5 linked regions of the Homo sapiens genome follow. The protein of the gene in region 4 purifies or fractionates together with the protein of the main gene of each other region. This does not show direct contact. Each region holds a gene or a part of one and is shown on either strand. Other genes may lie near its edges. The genes, in order: SERPINA12, IL36G, AMY1C, ZNF154 and PLBD1.

What was found.
Region 1: the proteins of ZNF154 (region 4) and SERPINA12 purify together in Homo sapiens (affinity purification with mass spectrometry; one large-scale study listed by BioGRID and IntAct). This does not show direct contact.
Region 2: the proteins of ZNF154 (region 4) and IL36G purify together in Homo sapiens (affinity purification with mass spectrometry; one large-scale study listed by BioGRID and IntAct). This does not show direct contact.
Region 3: the proteins of ZNF154 (region 4) and AMY1C purify together in Homo sapiens (affinity purification with mass spectrometry, with the first as the bait; one large-scale study listed by BioGRID). This does not show direct contact.
Region 5: the proteins of ZNF154 (region 4) and PLBD1 purify together in Homo sapiens (affinity purification with mass spectrometry; one large-scale study listed by BioGRID and IntAct). This does not show direct contact.

The regions. Positions count from the first base shown.
Region 1 is NC_000014.9:94,495,970-94,499,469, forward strand, and holds part of SERPINA12 (serpin A12 precursor), read right to left. Parts: intron 2,462-3,500; 5' UTR 2,429-2,461; coding exon 1,795-2,428; intron 675-1,794; coding exon 404-674; intron 1-403. UniProt on the Homo sapiens protein: Adipokine that modulates insulin action by specifically inhibiting its target protease KLK7 in white adipose tissues.
Region 2 is NC_000002.12:112,981,770-112,987,650, reverse strand, and holds the end of IL36G (interleukin-36 gamma), read right to left. Parts: intron 2,812-5,881; coding exon 2,602-2,811; 3' UTR 1,993-2,601; downstream 1-1,992. UniProt on the Homo sapiens protein: Cytokine that binds to and signals through the IL1RL2/IL-36R receptor which in turn activates NF-kappa-B and MAPK signaling pathways in target cells.
Region 3 is NC_000001.11:103,754,219-103,760,670, reverse strand, and holds the end of AMY1C (alpha-amylase 1C precursor), read right to left. Parts: intron 6,173-6,452; coding exon 6,050-6,172; intron 5,957-6,049; coding exon 5,857-5,956; intron 3,877-5,856; coding exon 3,758-3,876; intron 3,648-3,757; coding exon 3,522-3,647; intron 2,203-3,521; coding exon 2,013-2,202; 3' UTR 1,979-2,012; downstream 1-1,978. UniProt on the Homo sapiens protein: Calcium-binding enzyme that initiates starch digestion in the oral cavity.
Region 4 is NC_000019.10:57,704,357-57,711,592, reverse strand, and holds the start of ZNF154 (zinc finger protein 154), read left to right. Parts: upstream 1-2,388; 5' UTR 2,389-2,621; coding exon 2,622-2,654; exon of another isoform or gene 2,655-6,469; coding exon of another isoform or gene 6,470-6,613; coding exon 6,614-6,740; intron 6,741-7,236. UniProt on the Homo sapiens protein: May be involved in transcriptional regulation.
Region 5 is NC_000012.12:14,510,895-14,517,698, forward strand, and holds part of PLBD1 (phospholipase B-like 1 precursor), read right to left. Parts: intron 818-6,804; coding exon 617-817; intron 507-616; coding exon 366-506; intron 1-365. UniProt on the Homo sapiens protein: In view of the small size of the putative binding pocket, it has been proposed that it may act as an amidase or a peptidase.

The sequences.
Region 1 (3,500 bases), on a different chromosome or scaffold from region 4:
TGACACCACAGTTGACAACATCATTCTACTCACAACTCACAGCTCTCTTTTACAGCCCGTGTTTGTCCTTGCAGTTTCCTTTGCTCCTCACCCTTTCATACAGACTGCCACTCACCCTTGAAGACTTGGCTCAAATGCTATCTCCTCTATGAAGTCCTCCCTGACCACCGCCCTCCAGTAAGACTCCATCTACTGCGCCCTCACAGTCTTGATGAATCTCCCTCAAAGAGCCAGGCACTTCACTCTATTCCTATGATTTGTTCCCCAGTCTAATTCTCACCATGATATAAGTTTATTATAGAGCCCAGAAGAGGACTTGGCCATGAGGTAAGAGCTCAGACAGCAGAAATAAGAGGGAAGACAAGAGAAGGAAAAAGCTGCGAGGGCTAGGCACCCACTTTACCTGCGTGACAGTAATGTTTTCCATCTGGAGAAAGTGTCCACCTGCAATCCCTTCTCCAAGTGCTTCAGCTTGCCCTCATCAGGAAGGATGAAGATGGCTGTGATATTTTTCTGGTAGGGTATTTCCAGGATGGTGCAAGAGAGCTTATCGTCATAGCCAACTTGGTATATGCCACTACGGAACATCATGGGCACCTTGACTGAACTGTTTTTCTCCAGAAAGAAATCTTCCTCTTTAGTTACATTTGGATCAAACTCATGTTTCCACCTGGCTTAGATTGAAGAAAGACAAACAGACATGTTATCCCAAGGGAAAAAAGGTGACTAAATCCAACTAACCAGTAGTCTCTCTCCACACAGATTCAGGGTGAAAGGGGATATTCCGGGATATCAGGGAAGTCCTTGCCCTCATGCCATGTCCTGGAGATTTCTGATGATATGGGCTCAGGTGCAATTATTAGTTCCCAAAGAAGCCAGGACTAGACTGCCAAATTAAGAGGGGAAAAGAAGACTACCATAAGCTCAGGTTCCCCTAAGCCTGAGAAAGCCCACTGATTATGTCCTAACAGAGGGGACTGCATTACAATTAATGAGGGCTAATTGAGTCTGATGTGAGTAGACTCTTCTTTAGCCATCAATCTGCCTGTGGATTTTGAGAACCCTCAATTTTTTATATTTAGTACCATGTTCCTGACACTCCAGCAGTGATTTTGTCTGGACTGATGGGTGTTGGCCTCTGATTCTCACCTATTTTGGCCAACCTGTTTGTGTACATGTGTTCTGTGTGGTGTTGGGGGATAAAGTTGAAATTGGAAACATTCTTCCATCTTTTTTTTCTGTCTCTCTCCATCAGATCTGGGAAATATATAAAGTCTGATAAGGAGAATTTATATAATACATACATAAGGAGACCCACCAAGTGATCACCATCACCATAATCAACACAATCACCATCTCAGGTGTCTGCTTAAAGTGCTGGAAAGCACACAGTGCTAGGGCCAGGAGAAATGTGTTCCAGTCCTGACTGTCAATGATGGGCTTTGTAACTTGGAGTAAGTCAGTTAATCTCACTCTGATTTTTTTTTCTCATCTAAGTGATGGGAACAAAATGTCATTCCAACCTCTATAACCAATGTTGTGTTAGGATAATCACCAATAATGAAAATGATAGACTTCATAAAGCTCATTTCACATACATTTTCACTTTAAATCTCAATAACTGTATGAGTTATGTATCATGGTAACCATTTTACAGATAGGAAAAGTGAGGTTTTGAGAGATAAATCACATATGAATTCAAGGTCACAGAGTAAACAAGTGGCCAACCCAGGTTTTTAACCCAAGTCTAGTGGTCATCCTATTCTTTCCACACCAACATGCCAAAAGCCTTACCTCGAAAGAAAATATAATTTGCAAGAAGCATCACAGTGCCGGGGTCTATATTCTCGATCAGGTTGTTAATTTTCCCATGGGTTTTTTGACTGATAAAGTCATTGATCTGCTTCTGAGCCATTTCCAAATTCTGAAAGTTGGTAAGGATGGTTTCGGCACTGTAAAAGTTCTTGGCATCTTCCAAAAACTTACGCTGTGGCTGCAGCCTCTGGTCAATGAACAGCGTGTTCCCAATGCTCAGTTTGAGGTCCTGGGTCTTCTGGGTCAGCTCGTGGATGATGTAATGGAAGCCCTCATGAAGATCTTTTTCTGGCATCTTTCTGAAGTTGAACCCCTGCTTGATCTCGTCCAGGGTGCTGTCCTGGGCACCCAGGCACAGCATGGAGAAAGCTGTAGAGATGCTCAAGGGGGATAGGAAGATGTTCCTGCCAGGGTTGTAAAAGGCCAGCTTCTTGAGCAGCTTAAAGCCTAAGTCCATGTTCTGCCTTGCAAGCTCCTTGGCTGCCATCCTTTGCTTCCATCCTTGGACCTCGCTCAAAGCTTTATAATTCCTTGGTGAGAAGCTCGGCTTTAGAAGACCTTTCACCGTGAGGAGAACAGCCAGAAAAATGGCCAGGCCTAGTGTGGGGTTCATTTTCCTTGAAGAATATCCTGTTGAGTAGTAGACCTGAGGTCAGCAGAAAAAAAGAACATGATAACCCCATTGCCTACATGTTACCCAGAGGAAGACCAGATGAAAGAAGAAATACAGTGACTATTATGTGTTGTACATAGCAGTTTATGAGTGCTTTGACCCCTTTATAGCATTTAAACTTTATAATCACCCTGGGGACTAGAAATGACTTCTACACTTTGTAAATAGGAGGACTGAATGTAGAAGACAACTCTTGTTTTTGTACCCTCTTTATGGAAACAGTGTCTCAATTCCTTTGAGGAACAGCTCTCCTTCCCTCCATTGGACCACAGTGAGGATACCCCGTAGTGTAGGCATATGGCCCAGACCTACCATCATAATACTTCATTCCTTTGCCACACTGGCTGGTTAAAGATGAGAGTGTGGACCAAAATCAGACCTCTCAGTGTCTTTCTAAGGGAATGCAAAACCCCCTAAGCTTTGGGGCAGCTAGCTTTGTGAAGTAGCCCTGGAGCTGAATGTGGCCATGGTTTCCACATGTAGAAGGAGAGGAGAGTGATAGAGGGAGGTGGAAAGACAGAAATGGACTGACACATCTGATGACATCTTTGGAGACCCTGGACTAACCTTTAACTCAGTTTGCTACCCACTTCCATGTTTCCAAGTTATGAAAGCCAATAAATTTCCCTTTTAGAGTTGGCTGGTTTGAGGTAAATTTTTCCCCTTCAGCCAAAAGAATTATGACTAATTTACAGAGATCAAGCTCTTTGTTTAAGCTCATATGTTCTCTAGGTGGTGGATACTCATTCCAGGAGGACTTAGATCTCCAGGAAACCTTCTTCCCTACACCCTTCCCAGGGAGGGAAGAGGATGGCACCATGGGAGAGGAACAGCCAGGTCTGCCTGGCTCTGGACTGCTGCTCCTTTCATCCACCTCTCAGCTTTGACATCTTCCAACGGCCACTGTGAGCTTCTGGGAGACAAGACTTTTAGCTACGTTTTCCCTTAATCTCCAGCCCTAATTCTGCAGAGAGATGCTAAAAGCATGTTGGCCTAAAAAGCTTATTGATTT
Region 2 (5,881 bases), on a different chromosome or scaffold from region 4:
AGACCAATAGATATATGAAAAAATGCTCAATATTCCTAATCAGAGAAATGCAAGTCAAAATCACAATGGCGTATCACTTTCCCCTAGTTAGAATGGCCATTATCAAAAAGACAAAAGATAAGTGCTGTCAATGTTGTGGAGAAAAGGAAGCTCTTAAACACCCTTGGGGGGCATTTAAATTAGTGCAGCCACTCTGAAAAACATTATAGAAGCTCAGAAAATTAAAAATAGAACTACCATATGATCCAGCAATCACACTATGCAAAGGAATTCAAATCTTTATGTCAAAGAGATATCTGCACTCCCATGTTTATTGTAGCACCATTCACAATAGCCAAGATATTGAGTCAACCTAAGTGTCCATCAACAGATGAGTAGATAAAGAAAATGTGGTACATACACATAATGGAATACTATTTAGCCATAAAAAGGGATTGAAATCCCACCAGTTGTGACGACATGGATGAACCTGGAGAACATTATGCTAAATGAAACAAGCCAGGCACAGAAAGACAAATACCACATGATCTCACTCATATGTGAAATTTTAAAAAAAGTAGATCTCATAGAGGTAGAAAGTAGAATGGTAGTTACCAGAGGCTAGTGTAGTTAGCCAGGAGGAGGGATGGGGGGATGTTAGCCAAGGGCTACATAATTACAGTTATGTAGGAGGAATAACTTTCAAGAGACCTATTTTACAGCAAGGAGACTATAGTAAATGATGATATATTCTCTCAAAAAATGTAGAGAGTGGATGTTACGTGCTCTCACCACAAAAAATGATAACCATGTGAGGCAGTACATTTGTTAATTAGCTAGATTTAACCATTCCACAAATGTATATGTACTTCAAAACATCATGTGGTACCCAATAAAAACATACACTGTTATCTGTCAATTTAAAAAGATATGTAAAAATTGAGCTTTAAAAATTATTTTTAAATGTTTAATTAAAAATAACCCCCCAAAAAGAAAAAGTTAAAGAATAAAGAGGTATCACATTAAATCCATGCTTGCTGATTGCTTATTGTAATTGTTAGTAGTGGATGCAGTCTGATTGCCCAAAAGTAGAAAAAAAAATAAGTTGCTATGCTATTTTGAAGAATGTACTTAAGCAAACAGAATGTTCTGCATTTTCAGTGTTAGAGTAAAAATAAAGAAATCTATTATATACAGAATCAGATCTGAGGTATATATTTCTACAATTATACCCACAGTGAGTGTGTTAGGTCGTTCTTTCATGGTTGTAAAGAAATAGCCAAGACTGGGTAATTTATTAAGAAAAGAGGTTTAATTAGCTCACAGTTCTGTTCTGCAGGCTTTACAGGAAGCTTGGTATTGGTATCTGTTTGGCGTCTAGGGAGGCCTCAGGAAGCTTCCAATCATGGCAGAGGGTGAAGGGGGAGCAGGTACATCACATGGCAAAAGCAGGAGCAACAGAGAGAGTGAGGGTGGAGGTGCCACACACTTTTAAACAACCAGATCTTGTGAGAACCCACTCACTATGGTGAGGACAGCATCAAGCCACAAGTGATCCACCCCCATGACCAAAACACCTCCCACCAGGCTCCACCTTCAACACTGGGGATTACATTTCAACATGAGATTTGGACGAGGACAAACATGCAAACTATATCAGTCAGTTATTTAATTTCGTCAGAATATATCTTCTAAAGGTGGCTGTTGGGAAAGCAAGGCTTTCTCTTCCAAGAAGAAAAAAAAGACATCTTTACTGAAGTTTTTGAAAAAAGTATGTGAATGGTGAGATGGTCTAAAAGGAAAAGACTAGAGGAAGCAGGGAAAAACCAAGGCTATTCGACCATAAAGAAAGGAGCCAAACAGCAGAGCCCTGTTACATACTGAATTTCTCACCCCCACCCCATCACTATCCACCAAGGAAGGCCCTTTTGTCCCCAGCTAAGCCCCAGTCCCAGGTTTACCCACTGCAATGGCTTTATTCAACTACTCTTGCTAATTTCAGTTTACTCTTTCTTTATTTTATATCAGTTTTAGCTTTATTATTATATAAATACACAAAGTTTATTTAACTTTAAGATTACACATTACAATTAGGACAAAAATGATTTAACTTAACACAAGAATTATTTTTGTTTACAAGGTCTTAATGCTAAGAAGGTTCTATTACACACAATGAGGTATATTGGCAACATATAAAGACTGGATGATATCATCCCAAGAGGGAATAAAGCAAAACAGAAACAGAGATCAGCTCTGTGCTAGTCATGCCATCGTGGGTAACGCGCATGAGCTCTGAAGCATCTTCATACCCACCCCTAGAAGAAAGCTCAGTGTTTGGTCTTTGAGTCTTAAAGTCACTCATGCAGATGCCTTGTGGCCTACACAGCACCAGCTTGAGAGGACAGCCTTATACCACCCAGCTCTCCTGCTTCTGAGGCCACATCCTGTTCTTCAGTTGCTATGAAGTAATTGCTTCTTCTTCATTATAAAATGAGATGATAACAGCAGCCTTGCCCCTGTCTCAGCACCAGCGTGAAAATGACACTAAGAAAATGTAGACGAAAACACATTGGGAACCAGAAACTTTAAGACAAAGACCAAGCTGCCACCTCTAGGCTGAGTTCAGTCATTTATATTTAATTCAAAGGCAGTGTTGTATGACTTCCCAAGTTCTGAAGTCAGAATGATGGGCTGGTCTCTCTTGGAGGAGGCAATGAACCAGTCCGGGAAGGCCACAGACTCAAGGGTGGAGGTCCTACCAGTCTTGGCACGGTAGAAAAGGAAGGGTTTCACGGGCTCGGGTTGGCCATACAGATCCATGATCTTCTGCTCCTGAAATGTCAGAACAAGTACCCATTAGGAGAAACAGAAGCTGTTTGAGATATTCAAGGTTATTCATAATAATTCAATAAATGTTCCAAAGTTCCAGAAAACCTTATCCATCTATTAGAGCAGGCCTAGAGAAACACACATTTTGAAGGAGCAGCAGAGTAAACATACATGAAATTTTACCTTCCAAGCCCCCACCCTCAAATCCAGAGATGGTGTAGGAAGTTTACAAGGGAGAGTTTAATGAACAAGCAGCCACACTTGAACAACAAGTTAGAACTCTTCTCACACAAGAGGCTGAGGTGACCCTTAGGAAGAGGAAGAAATTGGAAATTACCTCCCTTACCAATACCACAACAGTGAGAGTCACTACCCTGCAAGAACCACCGGCGTGACAAAGGACAGCCAGGTTAGGGTATGAATTTCTGACTAATTGCCACATATATGAGAAAGATAAATACCAATGAAAAAGACCCAAGAGGGTCTAACAAATCAAAGGATTTGTATCAAAGGAAGAAGGTAAATAGAGCAATCAAAAAATGCCTTCTATATTGTATATGGAACTATATTCTGTATGTCTATATATTTGTATGTACATGCATTGTATATTTAGGTAAAATAAGTATTTCTAAGTAAATTGCAAGTGTTCAAGATCTCAAGAGAGACACAGAAATGATCTGTAATTCAGCCACATTCCACCCTGAGTGAGAAGTTCTTCTCCCACAGGATTCCTTTACTCAATTAATGGCTTCCAGTTAATCTGATTCTTTGGGTGGCCAGAAACCTAGGAGTCATTATTGACATTTCTTTTTTTGATCCCCTAACATCTAACCCAGGAGCAAGGCCTGTGGACTCTATTTCCAAAATACCAAAATATTTCCTGAATCGAGTCACTTCTTGCACTCCACACATGGCATCAACCCCAATCCAGGCCATCACTCTCTCACCTGGACAATTAGGGTGACCTTCTAAATGTTCTCCTTGAACCTACTCTATTCTCTAATAATCATTCTCCATAAGGCAGGTAAGTGAACTTTAAACTGAAGTAAATAAATAAGATTATGATACCCTTTTGCATGATTTTCTATTGTTATTACAGTGAAACTCCTCGGCAAAGCCCACAGGGTCTACGCCACCCAGCTCCTGCCTACCTGCTGCCCTGCCTTCTTACCACTCTCCTGCATGCTCATTCTGCCCCCACCAACCTGTCTTCTTCTTTGCCTTCCAAGACACCAAGCTGTTCCCACCCAAGGTCCTGGCACTTACTCTCCCTGCACCTCACACCAGCCCCACATCTTCCCAAGGCCAGCTGCTCCCCATCACCTGGGTCTCCTCCTTGGGGAGAACTTTACTGAACATTCCATCCCAGCCAAAATCGGTTTGGAATCCTCCCTCCTACTCATTGCGATCATATTCCTGAGTTATTTTCTTCATTAGTACCAACTGCTATCTAAACTTAGCGTATTTATTCATCAATCCCAGAATGATTGTTAGACTTGTTCATCACTGTATTCCTCAACACAGAGGAAAGCCCCCAGCATTCTACTCAACAGAGATTTGCTGTTTAATAAATGGAAGAATGCTTCCTCCTTTGAAACTCCCATACCTCCTCCATCATCACCTTCAACTTCCTACCCACTGAGAAAATTGAAGTAATTAGAAGACAACTTGTACAAACCACACCATAACATGGGCTCCCAGCACATGGCACCCATATCTGCACCTCCCTGCTTGAGGAGGACTGGGTGAAAGGTCCTATCTGCACTTGCAACTTAAGGACATCCCTCTAGCCGTTCTCCCTGCTCTCTTGTGCTCCATCAATTTTGCTTGCTCTTCTTAGTCATTCCCATCAGCATATTTGCTGTCATTTCTACCATCTTAAACAAAATAACTACTTTGCTTACCCACCACCGCCACCAGTTCCACTTTGCAGAAAACTTCCTGCAATCGCTGTCCATATCTGCTGTCTCTGATCCCTTTCTTGTAATTCCTCCCTTTAAACTTACTCCATCCAGGCTTTTGCCCCCACTACAGCACCAACACTGCTCCTGCCAAGGTCCCCAAAGACCCACACATTGCCAAACGCAACAGTCAATTCTTAGTCCCCATCTGAGAACAAACGCACAACATAAGGGTGACTTAGCTGACAGGACAAAGTAGCAAATGTCATTCTCAGTCCTGACTTTATTGATCACACTCACAATCCTGTTTCCTCCACTTAAAATACTACCAGAATCTGACTCACTGCTCCCCACCTCTGCTGCTATCTCCTGGCCCATCAAATCACACCTAGACCACCTCAAAGTCTCCTGAAGGACTTTCACCTTTGCCCGCCACAGTCTAAGATCTCCAGAGAGATCCTTTTTAGACCTAAGCCCCTTCACGCCATTCCTCTGTTCAAAACATTCTAATATTTCCCATTTCACTCAGATTGCAAGGCTGAGTCCTTGCAAAGGACAAGACTTTCATGTCTGCCTTTATCTCTCTGGACTCATTCCTCAATTCACTCCTGCACACCGGTCCTCACTGGTCCTGGGACGTGCCCTCACTAGACACCTGCTAACTAACTTCCCTAGCTCTTTCTACTCCCTGCTAACATCTCACCTAGGCAATGATGCCTATTGCACTATTCACCACTGCAGCCTGACGCCGCCTGTGTTCCTGGTACTGCTGGTCTATCTATCCTGCTGTAACCATTTTTATTTTTCTAGGAGAGGTAAAGACCTCTAACATAGCACAAATTTGCCTACTATTACATTTATTGTTTGCCATTTCTCTCCTTTCACTAGAATCCAAGCCCCACATGGTCAGGGTTCTTTGCCATTCTGTGCACAGCTATATCTCAAGCATCTACGCAGTGCTAGAGGCCAGGAAGTACCCATACATGCGCTTAATTGAATTGGATTGAGTTGAATCAAACTGAATTAAACTGAAGTTTGTGGAACGAGGACAAACAGTCATTAAAAAATAAAAAAAGAACAAACCAGAGAGCTTGGGAATTAAAAGAGTAAAGATTGAAATTTCAGGAAATGCTATAAAAGGATGATTTCCAGAAGGGACAACACTGAAAATG
Region 3 (6,452 bases), on a different chromosome or scaffold from region 4:
AACAGGCTATAGGACTAGAAGGCACCTTAGAAAACCTTCTAAGAGTAGCCACCTCTGTCTTTCATAAGACATACTAGGAGGAGGCTCAGGAAAAGGAGAGAAAATAGAAGAAAAAGTCAGACAGAGGGTACCTTGGAATGGAATCCAGGCCTGAGACTCCTTGAGCTCACTGTTCAAGACACCCTCATAAACTGGTCAGTAACAAACTTTGCTGCATGTCTCCGACTTGTTTTATGTCCTTAAGCATAACCTGTAACCATGTGGTAGTACCACTTTTCAGCCGTTGCCTTTTTACAATGGTGACCCAGGTTCAATCCCAGCCTGGGTGATGAATACTTTCCAGTTAACAACTGTGTGACGTTTAATCATCTCGTGCTCCGCCATGAAAAACTCTAACTGCCTTTCTGAAATCTTCCTTTCTCTCAACTGACTTTAAAGGTTCTAGATCTGGTAAAAGCTGCTTACCACCACTTATAAAATATCTTGTATACTAACGGTGAACTTATAACCTAACGGAGAGTTTTTAGTTTCCCCTGTGATGTTACCTTTGGTAAAATTCAAAAGCCAGAAATATTACCTGCTTGATTTAGCTAAAGTCAGGAAACAGAAGATGTCAAAGGATTTTCTGAAAGGGTGCTGAGCTTGATTAAAAGTGGATATTCAAGTTATAGGTATATTTAAAAGACCTGCATGTTTTTGTCTTCTTGGATCGTGTTTTTCTTGAAAAGAACTTTTCCATTGACTGAATTACTGTTCTCCACTCTGTCTTTCCACTCTTAATGCACACAAGATAACTTCTGGTGGCCTGAAACGTTTTGGGAAAAACAGAAAATGCATGATGGATTCCATTTTGGGAGAAACCTCTGTTTTCCTCATGGAATCCCAGAATCTAGAGGCTGATCAATCCTGCTCAAAATCTGTTTTTGTCTTACAGCTATACAAGTTGATTAGGCCCTAGAAACTTCGTGGTTTGCTATCCCTGTTCTTAAAGGGCTCTACTGGGAAGCCAGTAATGCAATTAGGAAATGGGACGAGAAGAAATCTTAGAGCTACTGGATCTTCTTCTGTTTGTCTGTGTAGCAATATATGTGTTGTGTGTGATGTCTGTAACGAGGACCAATTGATTGCCTTAAATAAAAATAAGCACTTAAATCAAATATTTTAGAGGAAAGTTAAAACCGTAATGCCTTTTAGTTTATGTGTTTTTAAACTCTAAGAAATAAAAACTGTTTTAAAGATCAAATTGGAAAATGCAAATATCATCAATATGTAAATAGCAGGTTTAAATCACATAAATTAGATAAAAGGCTTGCTAAATATTTCAAGGTTGTAGGCTGCCTACTTTACAACTTGGTAAGGCCTGGGGACATATGAAATTAACCATGCCCTAACTAGAATGGAAAAAGTCAGACTTTATCTGCATCTAGTACATAATTAAAACAACTTACCAGGTTTACATTAAAGTTAAAAATTGCTAAGATTGACCATAAAAATATGTAAATAAGACAACTAAAAATAAATTTACATGCAAGGTGTGTAGGAACACTTAAATGTGTTTGTGGTAAAAGATTATAAAAAGGCATAAAAATGTAAATGTTGCCTATGGAAAAAGGATTCTTTTGAAACCTATGTAAGGGTAAAATTTGGCTTTCCTTCCCTTGTACAGATTTTTCATGTAATAGAGAAGAATAATGAAATATTTGGTTTGCCTTGTTGGTAGAATGCCAAGGAGAGAAAAGAGTAGACAGGAGACAAACTGTTTGGAAAGCTAAGTCTTACCTCTTAATGAGTAAAGATTGTTGCCTAGTTTTAAAATTTTTGAGTCATCCTTTTGCCAAAATAAATAACTTATGTGTAACCTGGAATTGTATTTCATACTATCAAGTGTCTTAAACCTCTTTTTACTAATTAGAGCTTTTATTTAAAATTAATGATATGTAACTATTACTGTATATGTAAGAAAAGAAACACACTTAGCTATTGCTTTGCGGATTTGCATTTAATTTTAAATTTTACAATTTAGATTCAGCATGAATTGCAATAAATGGATCTTCAGCAGAGTTACTAATAGAAAAATGAGCTTTGCCATCATCAGAAACGTAGATTTTAATGCCTGTGCAGTTGCCATTAATTTTATCTCCAGAAATGACATCACAGTATGTGCCAGCAGGAAGACCAGTTTGCAAAGTTAAAGAAAATGTCCTGTAAAATAAAATTTCAGATTTAACTTCAAAACAATGAAATCAAGAATACAGACTAACACAAATAAACAGCATAACTTTATGTTTTAGAACCCTAAGCAGTGAAGTCTCATTAAGAAGAAAACCCATATGCCTCCCTAGTAGGTGTAAACAGCTTTCTAGGACCAAAAGTAACCTTACAGAAAACCTACCAATTTCCTTTTCAGTAGTGAAAATATAACCGAAAAATCAAAGTTGAAGAATATCACCGAAGATTGGCGGGAGCGGTCACATTTTGATAAAGTGCTACCTTGGTAAAATCAAATTTTTTCTCAACTGAACTTAATGCCAATTACTTTAAAAATTTAAAGGGTATTATTTTTTTAACCTTCTTTTATTCTACATGAGGTCAAAAAGAATTTAGGGTGTACATAAAAACAATCTAGCATTTGTATGAGGAAGTGATAGTTTGAAATATAAAGCTTTTTCACAAAAGATTTTTTTGGTATTTTCATCCACAAAAGAAGGAAACTAAGGAAATAGACACGCATTTTTTTGGCAGGAAAGAGATCAACTTGACTTATATATTTTTGTATTTATTTATTTTTCATAAGTGAAGTATAATTTATACTAGAGTGAGCTAAGTATGAGTGTCAGTTGGCCTTGGACAGAGACAATTCAACTGTTTGCAAGGAGGTCTTCTCAGCTACAGTTTCGGGAATCATTTATACTACAGCCAAAGGATACAAAAATCACAGATGAAAGGCCAATAATGAGAAGTTTCAGAACTAAAACTCAAGTCTCCTGAAGCAAATCATTAACCACAAGATACATATTATTTATCCATATGCTTTAAAAATGTTATTTGTCACAAGGAGACAGAGAAGTGAAGAAAGTATACCAAAAAACTAGGTAGAGCTGTCATTGAGAAAAAGAGAAATAAAGATATTTTAGTACTGAGGCAGCATTTTTCCATGATTAAAAGAGCAGGACTATAAGAAACGTTCTTTTAATGATTTCACAATCCTTCTATTAATTACTTTGTGTATTTTGTGGCATGTGTAGGTAAGCATATGAATGTGCATTCTATATATGCATAAGATATTGCAAGGGTGCACAGAAAGGATTCTGCTTACAACAGAAAGCCCTTATGAAAACAGGAGAACGAAGGAGTAACAGCCATCATCCTTTTGCTTCTACCCAATTTTGATCTCTATTGTCTTCTCGCTCCACTGACTACATGATTTTTCAGATATGATAAATGTCAATGAACAGAAAAAAAAAAGAATAAACCAAGAACATACTGGTACAAAATATTATTTTTAATTGATATTTACTTACCAGTCATCATTGTTGAAAACAATGAATCCTCTGTTTCCTCTCCCAAAAGCCACTTGGTTGCTCCCATTATCATACCAGTTTGTAAAAGGCTGGCCATCCACTACATTGCGGAAATTAACCATGTTCCTAAAAACACAATACCATATAAAACGTTGATATTCTTAAACTTCAACTGTTTTAAATAAAGTGCTACGGAAATTTACTATTAGAGGACATGTCTAAATACATATTCTCACCTTATTTGGCGCCATCGATGTTCACAGACCCAGTCATTGCCACAAGTAGTGTCTGGATTAATAGTAACTTCTTTAGTTACTCCATTATCATTTGGTGGCCCAACCCAATCATTAACATCCTTAATTACAGGAGGAAAAGCCAAATTTTAGCATATATATATTTATCTCTTCCTTCTCCTTTAAACCAAACCCAACCTATCCTGTTACTTGTGTCTCTGCATTCAGTGACTTTATCTAGAATCCAATGCCTTCATTGATTTTTATAGCCCTTTACTGGGTCTTCATCATCTCTCTATCCTCTGGTTCTCTTTTGCCATATTTCAAACAAAGGTAGCAAATTGTTATCCTCTCCTTTTCATTCCAAGGCACTGCAAAGACTTCTTTGCTCTGTCACCCAGGCTGGAGTACAGTGGCATGATCGTAGCTCACTGCAGCCTTGATCTCCGAGGCTCAAGCGAACCTCCCATCTCAGCCTCCCAAGTAGCTAAGACTGTTGGTGTGCACCACCGCACCCAGCTAATTTTTTTTTTTTTTTTAATTTTCAGTAGAGGCAAGGTCTTGCTAGCTTGCCCAGATAGGTCTTGAACTCCTCAGGTCAGCTGACCTTCTCAGCTGGCCGCACACAGTGCTGGGATTATAGGTGTGAGCCACTGCACCTGGCCTGCAAGGGCTTCTTAACATCACTGTAAGCCATGCAATGGCATTGAAATGGGAAGGGCATTAGTACTAGAAACACCAGGATTAAAACATAGGCTCTATTACTAGTAGCTGAGAAAATTTAATCAATATAAATAATTTCTCTGTGTCTCAGTTTCCTCATTTGTAAAATGAGAATAATGAGTTCTTTTGCTATAAAAATTAAGTAATATATGTGAAAATGCCTTGAACATGACATATGCTAAATAAATATTGGAGGCCGTCATGCTTCTTTTTAGATAAATGTACAAAATACTACATCTGAACATTTTTTTTTATAAATTGACCATATTTTTAGTATTATGCTTTTCTGATTGGCACTTTAAGAAATCTTCATTAAAAAACACAGAGTAACCCTAGGAAGTTTATCAGTGTTCACCTTAAAATCACGTCATATGGTGAAAAGTGAACAAAACTTAAGAGTTTATAGCATGCAGCAGTCCTGTCAAAGTGGGAATGTTATAGTAATAGAAAAAATAAAAGAACTCTCTGACTCCTAACAACAGAAATAAGACCAATTAGTAGAAATTATAAGAAGTTGTCTCAATATAAAAGTACACCTTCTAAATATTAAAGCTGTTTAACAATAGAATCAGTTGTTATACATAGTAGCGGACTTCTCAAACTGAAAGGAATCTAAAAAAAGCTAGCTAGATATCTGTGTGACTCATAGGAAGGAGGAATTTCTGCTTTAGTTCTGAAGTCTCTGATGCTGTTTCTCAACCCTTTAGTTTAAAAGAAAACCTTCTACTAGCTTTCCAAATATCTTTACACTCTTATTTCTCTGTTCCTTTTTGAAACTACTCAGCAGAGTGATGTCTTTACCATACTCCCAAATATTTTTCTCATTCTTACCTTTCTTGGAATACTCTCTATAAATTTCTATCCTTTAGTACATACAATTTCCTTCCTCTTATAGTATACTTTCCCTATTTAACTCAGCTGAACTGGATCATTTGTTTCTATACCATATAACTTTTTAACAGTATTTAAAAGACATTTATATTGTTCTCACTACGGGCAGATGATGTTTTAAGTTCTCTACAAGGGTTGGCATCTATATTCTTCCAATTAAACCTGAGGAAGGTACGAAGTATATATTTTAATCCCTGTGCCTAGCTCTTATTTTTAAGTGGTTTTTTTAATTTTTATTTTTATTTTCCCTGCGGGCTAGGGGGATGTTTGTCATATCTCTGAAAAAGCTTGCTATTCTTTTTCAATGGAGAATATAAAGTTTATTCCTTTAATATAACCTGCATTACTAAATCACAACCCTGTATCAGGTTTACAATAATTAAATATTTGTTGAATAAATAAACACTTAATAGTTGTCATATTAAATTAGGAGAAGATTGCCTCTTTTTTCTTGAGAAAAGGATATTTTGAACAACTCCAAAACTTACTTTTCCATTTTCAAAATATCTTGGCCAACGGTAGCTTGACATTACTCGTGTAAATCCATAAGGATGAGCAAGCATAAATCCAACTGCCATTTTGTACAGCCTGAAAGTTACATAATTATATTATCATAGAATATCACAATATTCATACCATCATTAAAAGAGGTGTTAAAAAATAGAGAACTTGGTTTTCTACCTAGCATCCCAGAAGGTAAGTATAGAGGCTCCTCCAGCGCCATGTCCTCGTTGATTGTCATGGTTATCCACAAAGACAAGCGCTCTGTCAGAAGGCATGAAACCCCAACCTTCTCCCCAGTTCCTATTTTTGAAACATAAGATATACGTTGATGTATCATTTCACAATAGTTTGAGAGTAACTCTACTGTGCATCTCTTTCTGTAAGGCATGGCATCTGAAGATTAAATTCTTTCTCTAATTAGATGGTTACTCTGTAAGATATATATATATACACACACACACACAAACACACACTCACATATATATACACACACACCTCATAAACAAACACACGTGTGTAATCTACATATATATAGTCCATATTTGTATATACATGTATGGAATACTTATATTCATATTAC
Region 4 (7,236 bases):
AATAATCAATGATTTACCAGTAGAAAAGAGCACAGCTAATGCTTACTAATATTTACAAGCATTGTTATCTATTGAAGAAAACCAGAGCTCCTTGAAAAAGAGGCTGATTCTGGGGCTGGGATAGCAAGGGTACAACATGAGCCTGAAAATATTTTTGGATTAGAAAGTAATGAAATTATCAATAATATTGACATAAAAAAGCAGAGAGCACAGCTTTAATGAGTTCCCACTGTCCAAACATCTGGGAGAATCTGAACATTAAAATAAATGTTGGGGCCGGACGCAGTGGCTCACGCCTGTAATTCCAGCACCTCGAGAGGCCGAGGTGGGTGGATCATGAGGTCAGGAGTTCAAGACTAGCCTGGCCAAGATGGTGAAACCCTGTCTCTACTAAAAATACAAAAAATTAGCTAGGCATGGTGGTGGGCAACTGTAGTCCCAGCTACTCGGGAGGCTGAGGCAGGAGAATGGCGTGAACCTGGGAGGCGGAGCTTGCAGTGAGCCGAGATCGCGCCACTGCACTCCAACCTGGGTGACAGAGCAAGATTCCATCTCAAAAAAAAAAAAAAAAAAAAAAGTACATTACCTTGCTGAGAATTAAAAAGAAAATTTTATATTCGAGTGCTATTTATTTTGCGGCTCCAAAACTTTATAACAAAGCAGCAGAGATTTCTCGGCCAGGCTCGGTGGCTCATGCCTGTAATCCCAGCACTTTGGGAAGCCGAGATGCGTGGATCACCTGAGGTCAGTGGTTCGAGACCAGCCTGGCCAACATGGTGAAACCCCGTCTCTTCTAAAAATACAAAAATTAGCTGGGTGTCATGGCGTGCGCCTGTAGTCCCAGCTACTTGGGAGGCTGAGGCAAGATAATCGCTTGAACCCAGGAGGTGGAGAGGTTGCAGTGAAACAAGACTGCGTCATTGCACTCCAGCCTGGGCAATAAGAGTGAAACTCCATCTCAAAAAAAAAGAAAAAAAAAAAAGAAGAGATTTCTCACCTATATACCCTGAGTGTCTCTGCAGCCAGCAAAGCAGATGAAGGCCTGCTGGGTTGGAGCCCTAGGCCCTCCAATGCTGAAATGCCCTGTGAAGTCTCCATCCATCCAGGCACTCTAGTAACCTGCTTCTTCTGCCTGGAATTTATTCTAAAAATACCCACATGGCTCATTTCTCACTTCCTTCAAGTGCATTTCACCGGCTTTCTGATTAAGAAGTCCCACCTCTCCCCTTTGTCTCTTATCAAAGTAGCATTTCTTTCATTGTTTTTTGAGATTGATGTTAGACTTCTAGAAGGAATATATCTCAGATATCAAGTAAGAATTATGAAATGGATAAAAGCGTTGCTCAGTGAATTGGACACAGTTATTGACTGGACACAGTAATTGGACACAATAATTGACTATGCAGGCAAAAGATGTTTTCTGTTGGAATCAGACAGAATTCTACCTTTGTACTACTGTTTCAAGGTGATCTAACATTTCTCTTCTATCTTCTAGAAGCACTATCATGCCACTATCTGAAGTAGTTTTTCACCTGTCCCTGACCAAAAGTGCACAGACTGACTTCAATGCTTCGGAGTGCATACATTTGAAATGTAATATGATAGAGGCTGGGTACGGTGGCTTACGCCTGTAATCCCAGCACTTTGAGAGGCCGAGGCGGGCAGATCACCTGGGGCCAGGAATTTGGGACCACCATAGTGAAACCCTGTCTCTACTGAAAATACAAAAAATTAGCCTGGCGTGGTGGCGCGCGCCTATAGTCCCAGCTACTTGGAAGGTTGAGGCACGAGAATCGATTAACCCGGGAGGCGGAGGTTGCAGTGATCCCAGATGGCGCCGCTGCACTCCAGCCTGGGGGACAGAGGGAAACTTTGTCTTAAAAAAAAAAAAAAAGGAATAAACTTATATGGTAATGTTTATTAGCTTCCCTACTAGTGGATATATTTCGTGTCTGAATGGCTCTATGGAATGATGTACATATTTGGATTGGCAGCCTTAGGGAGCGTCTGATAATAATTTTAGCCTCTGGGAGCCTGCTGAACTTTATGAAGTTTGAAATAATATTCCCCAAACACTTGGGTGATCAGTTGCAGATGGCACCTCTAATATGCTGTCTGATTACGACCCATTTAAGAAAGGGCGAAGTCCCTCCACTGCCCTAGGACTTGGATAAGCCATTTCTCATCGCCCAGCGCCCTGGAGCTTCGCTTTTACTCCAAGAGGTTGGTGCAAAGGGTCCCCGGCACCCACCTCGGGATCTATGAAAACTACATTACCTAGAATGCTCTGCGTTGAACGCCACGCTACTAAGCCAGTAAGAGCTCAGAAAACCGACTTTCCTTGAGAGTCACAAAAAGAAAGGACGGGACTTTTGGGGGGGCCTCTTCGTGGCGGCCATTTTAGCTTCTCTGAGGTGTGTTCACCGGATCAGAGATAGCAGAGCGCCGAGTTGGGGCCACGAAGGCGTGAGGGGAGTCGTCGTCCCTCCTGCACGAAAGCGTCTAAGCCTTGGCGACGCCGCCCTGGGGGACCCACGTCAGGCCTGGGATAGGGACCGCTGTCCCCGGGTCCCTACCAATGTCGCCCGTCGCTCCCGGCCCAGCTCTACCCGCAGAGTCTGATGGCAGCGGCCACTCTGAGGACGCCAACTCAGGTGAGTGCGGCGTCTTCCCGTCCTCACACACCTTCCCCCACCCACGTTCTAAAGCCATCAGTGAGGGGCGCCTGCTCGAGTCCCCGCTGCCCAGGGTCGGGGACACTGAGGCGTTCGTGGGTGGGGCCCTTTTTTTGACACTGCGTGTGACGAGGTGTGGGAGAGCGTGACAGGCGGAGGAACCGGCGCGTGCAAAGGTTGAGGCGCGACTGAGCCAGGAGAATTCGGAAAGCTGTTTTCTGCAGGGAACGAAGAATATGAGGCGGAGTTACTCCTAGGGTTGTACTGTCATTGTGAGGATGCTAGAAGCCACGGAGAGTTCTGAACAAAGGAGGGACGCCATTTATGTTAGTTTTTTTTTCTTTGAGACGGAGTTTCGCTCTTATCGCCCAGGCTGGAGTGCAATGACGCGATCTCGGGTCACTGCAACCTCCGACTCCCGGGTTCAAGCGATTCTCCTGCCTCAGCCTCCCCAGCAGCTGGGATTACAAGCCTGCAGCTGGGATTACAACGTCCGGCTAATTTTTTGTATTTTTAGTAGAGACGGGATTTCACCATTTTGGCCAGACTGGTCTGGAACTCCTGACAAGTGATCCTCCTGCCTCGGCCTCCCAAAGTGCTGGGATTACAGGCGTGAGCCACCGTGCCCGCCCTATGTTAGGGTTTAAAAACTTTTCCAAAGACTGTTCACAGGAAGAGCAGCGATGGGGCGATGAGGACATTGAGATAGTGGGAGGCTACATCTTTTTTTCATTGCCCTACAGTTGGCAAGAGGTGACAGCACTGAGACCAGAAAGTAAAACAGCCAGCCTGAGTTCAGGGCCAGGCAGGGCTACAGGGAGGCTTGAGCTCATCTAGCCTCACCAGGGATGCATTCCTCTTTCCCTGGTTCTCCCAGTTGTAGAAGGGCGTATGGAACTCACATAGGGAAGTGGAGAGTGTTCGGTCCCTCAGTAGCCTCTACCCCCATGTTCTTGGGATTGTGGTTTCCTAGTATTCTTAAGTGCTGTTACCCCAATCCTGGGTCTGGTGCCCTGGAGAAATTCCAAGCCCAGGGCTCTTAAGTCCATGCCAGAGGTTACAGGGGTTATACTGAGGTGTTCCCATTTTTGTCAGCCAGTGGAAACTTGTGAAAGGTTATCTCTGGCACTGGTATCAGGAGGCGCAAGTGCTTAGTAAAACTAAGCTGAGATTTTTGAGGAAACCATAGATCTGTTTCCTTTTAGCTGGGAACAAAGAGCAGGGGGAAGGAGTCAGGACTGCAGTGGCTGCCTGAGAAGTTGGGTACCTATTCTGGAGGTAATGAGAGATTTGGGTTACAAGAGGGAGGTGATCTTACCAAAGTCCTAACAGGGTCCATCCCGTTAGCGTGGAGAGCAGACTGTGGGGTTGAGGGAAGAGGAAAGAAGATCAGAGTGGAAGCTACAGCCAGTCCAGGGTAATGGACCAGAGTCATTGATTAGGAGATGTGTTGCATTCTGGATGCAAATTTTTAAAGGGAGCAACTAAATTTTCTGATGTAGACAGCGAGGGAGTGAAACAGGATTCAGCGATGACCCCATGGTTCTTCAACTGAGATGGAGAAGTTGGTATTAACAGTAATATTCACTGGAGACAACAGGAGCTTTATTTGGTCATGTAAGAGTTTGAGATGTTTCAGAGACATTAAGTAGGCATTAAGTAGGTGGCTGAACACCCAGGTCTGGAAATCTGGGGAGTGCTTCAGAATGGAGACATCCAAAATGTGGTGGTCATTGTGTGGACTAAGGTGAGTGAGCTGTGGATTACATTTAGAAGGGTTGTTCTATTTTTTTTTTTTTTTTTTGAGATGGAGTGTCTCTCTTGTTGCCCAGGCCAGAGTGCAATGGCGCGAGCTTGGCTCACCACAACCTCCGCCTCCCGGCTTCAAGCAATTCTCCTGCCTCAGCCTCCCGAGTAGCTGGGATTACAGGCATGCGCCACCACGCCCGGCTAATTTTGTATTTATTTAGTAGAGACAGGGTTTCTCCATGTTGGTCAGGCTAGTCTTGAACTCCCAACCTCAGGTGATCCACCCGCCTCAGCCACCCAGAGTTCTGGGATTACAGGCGTAAGCCACCGCATCCGGCCTACAAGGGTTAATCTTTAGGCATGGTGGTACAGGTTATTTGGCCAGGAAGGGCAGAATGGGGGCTAAGGACCAAGCCTTTTGGTTGGATAAGTGGGTGATATTCTTGGGCTTTCTAAACAGAGGTAAGGGAGGTTAGTGGCTATGGAGGTAGGGTGTTTGGAGAGGATAGTTGGGCAGGTGGCATACACTTTCAAGGGAAGAGTGGATATAAGGTGGATGCAGAGGCATAGGTGTATTTGAGGCAAATGGCTGTCCTTTTTTTCCTTTGTGCTTATTCAGCACTCTGTGGAATCACCAGGATTTTTTGATGACTTTGATGGGGCCTAGGGTGTTTATTCAACCTGGAGGATAAGGCCAGGTGCCAATGTGGTCATCTGTGACAGTCACTTGGCCTGGGGTAGGTGATCAGTGGAGCTAGTCTTTGAGTGTTAAGTGGACAGAGGAAGGTTGTTACTGCTGAGGGGCTAGCAAGTGCAGCACGGAAGTGGAATAGGGCCATGGGTATCTGAGATGCACATGTGGTTCTGTGTGGCCTAAATCTGAGGCAAAGAATGGAGCCAGCCAGGGAGCCCTCATAGGATTTGGGGCTGCTACCACTAGTGGATGCCCTGGGAGATCTAGGGTAGTATTAGATCCGTTTGAATCTGTCGAGCATACTCTGGACGCTGTGTGCTAAGTTATGGTGTAAAGTCTAAAATTAAGGCCCAGTATGACATCTGGTGAAATCAGGGTGGCATCAAATGGCCTGAGTACAAGTTTCCCTCCCTACTCTTCTCCCAAACAGACAACCCTTTTAATCAAGGAGACCAGGCACAATTTCTGCCTATCACTTTGTAGCAGATTTCAGCTCCCTACCAGGTCATGGAGTTTTCCAAACAAGCCCATTGTGGGAACCAGGGGGCAGTTGATCCTTTTGTTCTCAAAGTGCTTGCATCCCACAGTTTTTGGTTATTCACTTTTTTTCTGGACTAGACCCCCATGTGACCCTGTGTGGTACATGTTGTCCTCATCTCCCAGGTTCTATGTACATATGATTAATAAACTGCTATATCATCTTTCTTTTTTTTTTTTTTTTGAGACGGAGTCTCGCTCTGTCGCCCAGACTGGAGTGCAGTTTCGCAATCTTGGCTCACTGCAACCTCCGCCTCCTGGGTTCAAGCAATTCTCCTGCCTCAGCCTCCTGAGTAGCTGGGATTACAGGTGTGCTTCACCACGCCCGGCTAATTTTTGTATTTTTAGTAGAGATGGGGTTTCGCCATATTGGTCAGGCTGGTCTTGAACTCCTGACCTCGTGATCCACCCGTCTTGGCCTCCCAAAGTGCTGGGATTACAGGCATGAGCCACCATACCCAACTGCTGTATCGTCTTTCTAGTGTCAGGTATTGTGTGTTTGTCCATATCCATAACCCTAGTGTGGCAATCCTGCCTTCGCTAATGGGGTAAAGAGGAAGAGATTAAAACAGTGACATGGGAGGTAAGAGCAGGGAGATGCCTATGGTGTGGGCAGTGAGGTGGCAGCCCTGGGCTTGGGGCTGTGGTGTCTGGAGATAGGAGGGATGTGTATTCTGAAGAATGATGTGCATCTGGAAAGGGAGTAAGTGACAGCTGCAGGGCCCTGGTATTGAGACTTAGATGACCTTGGACATTTCAGGGGGATTTCATGATGGGATAGTATGGATCCTTCCATGCCAGGCCCCCAGCTTAGATGCCTATTTATCCATGTGCTGGTTTCTCCTCTCAGTTGGGGAGCTTGGGAAGAGAATGGGCATGGGGTAAAGATGTGGGGGTATGCATTGTGGGTCCTTGGGATAGGGGCTCTTGGTGGTTTCATCTGTTCCCATTGTGGCAGGGCACTGTGACCTTTGAAGATGTGGCCGTACACTTCTCCTGGGAGGAATGGGGTCTCCTTGATGAGGCTCAAAGATGCCTGTACCGTGATGTGATGCTGGAGAACTTGGCTCTTTTAACCTCTCTAGGTAAGGTTCTTTTACCCTTTCCTGTGCCCTGAGCTAGTCTGTGCCCTTCCTCTTTTCTCTATAGGCAGGTCTGTCCTTCTCATGACAAGACTATGGGCTCTGCTTCTTTCTCAGTTCCCTGCATAGTTCTGTCATTGGTAAGACTAAGGTGTGCATACTGTCTTCTCCTCTCCTTGAGGAGCCCCAGTACCTGTTTCCTCACAGCCTCACAGGGAAGGATTCAGAGTCTGCAGTCTTGCAGTCACCCTAGTGGATCCCACCTTGATTGTCCCCTCCATGTCTGGGTGACTTTTTCCAGATTTGAGGATCCTGTGTGCCCCAGCTACTACTTCCATCCCGAGCTGGCATTTCATTATGCCTGCCTATGCCAGGAGTTATTGTCACTGACATGGTCACTACTTATGTAGACCATGGACTCTTCTTACAAAGTATTCCTCTGAAATTTTCTTTGTAGTATTTGTGTGTGTGTGTGTTTTTCCTGTGGGCTGTCATGTGC
Region 5 (6,804 bases), on a different chromosome or scaffold from region 4:
TCAGGGATTCTGTATCCTTGCTTTTCTAGTCCCTGGGCCACAGTGGCACTCCAAAAATATTTGCTGAATTGAACTTAAAGCTTTAACCAGGAACACAGGAGAAAAGGTAACATTAGAACTATGAGAAATCATAGAGTCATGAATGCCTGATTTGCGTCCCAATCTGCACATTGTCCTATAAGAGTTTGAGATGTAGGTTTACATGTTGTGCTAAACCTGGTCATTCTGGTGTAATATAGCATCCCCATCCTGTCTTCCCCACCATACCCTCCCCCACCACACATTCACACAATGTGCATTCCCCTACCATATATGAACACACACATACTCATCAGGTTTTAAGACTTACGACATGAAGAAAGTACCTTTCCGTAGAACATCAGTTTGTTCAGAATATTCTACATATGTAGGAATTTGCTCCACAATGTACAGAGTGCCTTTGTCAAGACTGTGGTTCAGCTTTACTTTCTTCAGGTCCAGAACCATGTATTGATTGTTATAGGTGCCTGAAATATCAGGAAACATGAAGACGGGGCATGGGTATGACTTTACTGGTTAACAAGCCTAAATCAAAATATATGTCTGTGCCTAACAGTTATTCTGCAGGGTCACTTACCAGAGTTGTATTTTGAAAAGATGTCTGCCCACCTCTTGCCACTATCTGCCATCATATTGGCCACACGGACTCTTTGCCAGGACAGGAGAGTCTCGGGTATTACCTGCTTTAGCAGGGTTTTATTAAACACACTGTTTGTGGTCTGCAGCAATATCAATCCACTGCTAAGAATGTAAAAATCATCCAGAGACTCCAAAAACCCTACAGGAAAGACAAATATACACATCAGCATATGTATACATGGAACAGTGAACCATCATTATTGACAAAGAGCTTTACATACACAATGCATTTTGCAAAGTGTATCAGTTATTACTATCCTTGATCTGCAGTAGCCTCCCCCAGCTTTGGCTCACCTCTGTGGTAGTCACCCAACTGCCCCTTATAGAGGTGCCAAAAGAACTCCACCCCTGGATTCTCCATTGAAAATTTATTTTGTGATTTGAAATAACAAAAATATGTTAAATCCAGAACATTGCAAGCTTCCAGAATGATAAACAGATGTAGATCCCGACTTGCTAGGATTTTGCAGGAGAATTTTTAATTAGGGAGGGGATTAGCAGGGTTCATTAGTAAGAATATAAATGCCTTTTTTTCTTCTTTTCTACTTTCCTGTATTTTTCAAATTTTGTATAAGTCTACTTTTTTTTTTTTTTTGACACACAGTCTGACTCTGTCACCCAGGCTGCAGTGTGGTGGCATGATCTCAGCTCACTGCAACCTTGCCTCCTGGGTTCAAGCAATTCTTGTGCCTCAGCCTCCTGAGTAGCTGGGGTTACAGGTGTGCACCACCACACCTGGCTAATTTTTGTATTTTTAGTAGAGACCGGGTTTCACCGTGTTGGCCAGGCTGGTCTCAAACTCCTGACCTCAAGTGATTCACCCACCTTAGCCTCTAAAGTGCTGGGATTACAGGTGTGGGCCACCACACCCGGCTAAGTCTACATAATTTTTATAAATGGAAAAACATCTACATTTAGAAAAGTAAAGATGGTTTTGAAACTAGGGCATTGACACTCTTGGTCAATGCTTTTTTATAAATGTTGGAGGCAACACAGGAAAATCAGTGAAGCCACAGTCTTTTCTGAAGACCTATTTTGTGGTTTATACTGGGATGAGTATGGAAAGGATAGAATATCAGGCACAGCTGTAATAAAAAGAGAGGATATACTGTCATCAGTAACAGTAATGGAACAACTGTCAGTGTTAAACAGAAAAGGACCTCAGTGGTAGGGTTAGAAGGGGCCAGAGTGGTAAGTTCCTTCGGTGCATCCTGCTGAAGGGTTTTAAGGCCCTTACAAAACAGTCCCGAGGGAGCTAGCTAGCCCCTTCCACTATGTGAGGTCACAGAGAGAAGGCACTGTCTACGAGAAACAGACCCTCATTAGACACTGAGTCTTCCAGTCCCTTCATCTTGGGCTTCCCAGCCTCCAGAACTGTGAGCAATAACATTTCTATAGCTTATAAATTACCTAGTCTGAGGTGTTTTGTCATAGTAGTCAGAATGGACTGAGATGGTCTCAAATTTCTACCATGATTTTTTACCACTTTTATCATTTTTGCCATATCTGAGTACTATCTGAACTATCATTTAGTTAATATTTTTGTTATTTTTTAACTGACAAGTAAAAATTATATATATTTATGTTATACAAAAGAAAGGATATTTTGATATCTGACAAGGAAACATTGTATATATTTTGGCATACAAAATGATATTCTGATATATGTATACATTGTCAATGGCTAAATCAAGCTATTAACATATGCACTACTTAATATCTTTCTTCAAATTAACTCACTTTTCAAACTTAACTTACCCTTGTCATATATCATAATGTCTCAGAAACTATGGACTTAATGTTTTTGTTTTTTCCCAAAGAAATACATTAAAACAAATACATTTCTACTAATGTGCAAAAAATGTTTGTCCACATACTGCCTCAAATCACCCCACCAGCCCTATGCATGCTATTACACATCTATTCTAGCCTAGTATGGAATAAGTAAGGTGGGGTCAAAGAAACGGGTCACCTGAAACCGGAGGTAAGAGCATGGACTGGGAGTCAGAAGACCTGCATTTTAGTTTCCTGCTTGCCTCTAATGAATTTGACAGTTCTTATTTTGCCTCTCTCTTCCTTATTTCCTTCTTCTGATAACCTGGGACTAATGTCATTCAGCTATTCAGCTCTAACAATCTGATTTTAATTTCTTGAAATTTCTTGAGTAGGAAAGTTACACGATGAGAGGACTGTCCAACTAACTCTTAGTTTTTTTTTTTTTTTTTGAGACGGAGTCTCGCTCTGTCGCCCAGGCTGGAGTGCAGTGGCGTGATCTTGGCACACTGCAAATTCCACCTCCTGGGTTCACGCCATTCTCCTGCCTCAGCCTCCCAAGTAGCTGGGACTACAGGCGCCCGCCACCACGCCCTGCTAATTTTTTGCATTTTTAGTAGAGACGGGGTTTCGCCATGTTAGCCAGGATGGTCTCGATCTCCTGACCTCATGATCTGCCCGCCTCGGCCTCCCAAAGTGCTGGGATTACAGGCGTGAGCCACCGTGCCCGGCCCCAACTAACTCTTAATGAGCCTCTACACGGCTGCCATTAAGCTATAGAGAGCTTTGTGTAAATTAGAGAAAGTTGCACATTCCAAGTGGTACAAGGTTTAACAGTACTCTTGAATGAAATTTTAATGGGTCACCTCTCTAGAAAGACATGACCTGGGCAAGGATATATGGCTTGACAGAGTGTAAAATGGATTGCATTCGTGTCTTGGGCTGGGATCATTTTTCAAACTGTACAACCATACTTGGCAGCCTTGAGAAAGCTCCCTGGTAGATAATCCCTGTAGGGTAGAATGCTGTATTTCCGGAATGACAAGTTTGCTAATTCAATACTTGCTGTAGCAGTCTCCCTGGACACAAGAGGGCAGGCGTTCTTTAATATGTGTAGGTGATTGAATATTACAAGTACTAATGTTTAAGGAGTAGTCTTTCATTTAAAGGCAAGATTCTTTATGAAAGAGACAGGATGATGGAAATATATAGGCTATCCAGAGTTCTAGAGCAAGGAGAGTGAACTGGCCTGCAAAAACTATAGTTGAGGAGGCTAATTCTATAGTTTAGAGTTTAAGATAATAAAGAAAAGGCCCAGAGATGGGACAAAGTTCTGACACATTGCCTTTGAAAAGAAACACATTTCTTTGACTACATACAATTATAATCTTTTTAAATTTTTTTTTTTTTTGAGACAGGGTCTCCCTGTGTTGCCCAGGCTGGTGTCGAGCTTTAGAGTTCAAGGGATCCTCCAGCCTTGGCCTCCCAAAGTGCTGGGATTACAGGTATGAGCCACCACACCCTAACTAAAATTATAATCTTGCTCTCATCTGTCATTAGCAGCTTTGGAAGGCAGATTGAGATCAGGAGAAAATGAAACACTCCAGTGTTTTATGAATGCCAGCCTAAGAATAACATTTCATGATAAGCTTCTCACTGAATTTAATTAAGAAATAAAAAGAAACACTTCCGGTTAATAAATCCTATTTCAAGACTTAAAAAAAACACCAAACTGCAGAAATAAACAGTAACCACTATGTAGTCATGCAAATGGCAACAACAGTTACTCAACACACACCATGGAACAAACACATTAGAAACAATTATGAAGATTGACTCATGGGGAGTTGCATGTTGAGACAGGGTGGAGTTGAGGGAAATCATCTTATGACCAGTTAATCAAGAAAAGTATGAAAACTAAGGTGGGATTTCTGGAAAGGTAGAAGGGAGGACACATCCTGATTTAGGTGGGGAAGATGATCAAGACAGGTCTGATCTGGCAGAAGACATCAGTGTTCTGGGATGGTACCAATGAGGAGACAAAGAATCAAAGAAAGGTACTTAAAAAAAAAACAGAAATTAAGTGCTGCAAAATCCATTTATAATTCTTTAGAATACGTGCCCGTATTCTGCTATTGCTTTTTTTTTCTTGGTTCTACCTTTTAAAAGCAAAGGACATGAATTTTGGTCTGTACTAAATATAGATTGTTTTTATATACTTCAGCTTTATGACCAAAGTACCTAGATCAAAGAGGTAACATGACATTAATAACAGTAATTACAGAACATTAAAAATGTTTACAACATATATTTATTAAATAGGCAATTTTATAGATTATGAAGACTTGACTTAAATTTTCCTGGAGCCTATTCTTTTATCTTCATGTGTACCTACTTTCAAGTACATGCACTTAATATTTAAAAAGGCCAAGCTGGCTCATGCCTGTAATCCCAGCACTTTGGGAGACCGAGGTGGGTGGTGAATCATTTGAGGTCAGGAGTTTGAGACCAGCCTGACCAACATGGTGAAACCCCATCTCTACTAAAAATACAAAAAAAAAAAAATTAGCCGGGCGTGGTGTAGTCCCAGCTACTTGGGAGGCTGAGGCACAAGAATTGCCTGAACCCAGGAGGCAGAGGTTGAATTGGCCACTGCACTCCAGCCTGGGCAACAGAGCGAGACTCCATCTCAAAAAAAAACAAGGCCGGGCACGGTGGCTCACGCCTGTAATCCCAGCACTTTGGGAGGCTGAGGCAGGTGGATCACAAGGTCAGGAGTTTGAGACCAGCCTGACCAACATGGTGAAACCCCGTCTCTACTAAAAATACAAAAATTAGCTGGGCACGGTGGCGCGCGCCTGTAATCCCAGTTACTCAGGAGGCTGAGGTAGGGGATTCGCTTGAACCCAGGAGGCGGAGGCTGCAGTGAGCCGAGATCGCGCCATTGCACTCTAGCCTCGGTGACAGAGCGACACTCCATCTCAAACAAAAACAAAAACAAACAAACAACAACAACAAAAAAGGCTAAGCAAAGATTTTGCTGCTTAGACCACAAGGGCTGCCATAGTCTCACAAACAGGATGGACTATGGATTCAGTATGCTAGGATGGTCTAGGGTGCTTGTTACAAATGTCCCAGCCCAGATCAATGAAATATGAATTTCTATGGATGACACTGCATTTTTAGCAAGCTCCATAGGAAAAATTGGGGAACATCTAAGTTTAAGAGGTATGTATACATGTATGGGGGAGGTGATAGCATACCTGTATATAATGAGAAGTAGGAACACACACACGCTTGGGGAAACACACTAAATGCATCCCAGAAAGCCTCACTTATAGATCATTAAGCTTGAAGCCTCAGCCTTATGGGGATCATCATTACTGGGATCCTCAATTAAAAGTCCTTTGAGGCCAGGCAAGGTGGCTTATGCCTGTAATCCCAGTACTTTGGCAGGCAGAGGAGGGCGGATCACCTGAGTTCAGGAGTTCGAGATTAGCCTGGCCAGCATGGAGAAACCCTGTCTCTACTAAAAATACAAAAATTAGCAGGGCATGGTGGCATACGCCTGTGGTCCCAGCTACTTGGGAGGCTGAGACACAAGAATCGCTTGAACCTGGGAGGCAGAGGTTGCAGTGAGCTGAGATCACGCCATTCCACTCCAGCATGGGCGACAGAGTGAGACGCCATCTCAAACAAAAAAAAAGTCCTTTAAATAGGTTCCATCTTTTATTCCCACATAGAAGCTCCACCCACCTGGCATGGCAGGAAATCCTTTGAGTTCACTGCTCTTTTAGTTTTTTGTTTGTGTTTGTGTTTTGAGACAGGCCATGCTCTGTCGCCCAGGCTGGAGTGCCGTGGCGTGATCAAGGCTCAAGGCAGCTTCAAACCCCCAGGATCAAAGGATCCTCCCACCAGGCCTCCTGAGTAGCTGGGGCTACAGGCATGCACCACCACACCTGGCTAAATTTTTTAATTTTTTGTAGAGACGGGGGTCTTGCTATGTTGCACAGCCTGGTCTCAAACTTCTGGGCTCAAGCGCTCCTCCTGCCTTGGCCTCTTAAAGTGCTGGGATTACAGGTGTGAGCCACCACACCCAGCCGGCTCTTTCAGTTTTAGCCATTTAATTTAAATCCAAACTGCATCATTTCTAAAAAAAAAAAGAAATGGATATTTATAGTTAGATATATTGCCTTTGCACCCAGTCCTCAACCACTGAATTGTGTGACCTTGACCTGTTTGACTATTTAACTTCTCTGAACTGTTTATTTTAAAAATGCAGACAAAATACCCTCCTTGAGGCTTTTTATGGAAGGCAGAATTTGTAAAAGTCAGTATGCTTTGCCTCTCGAC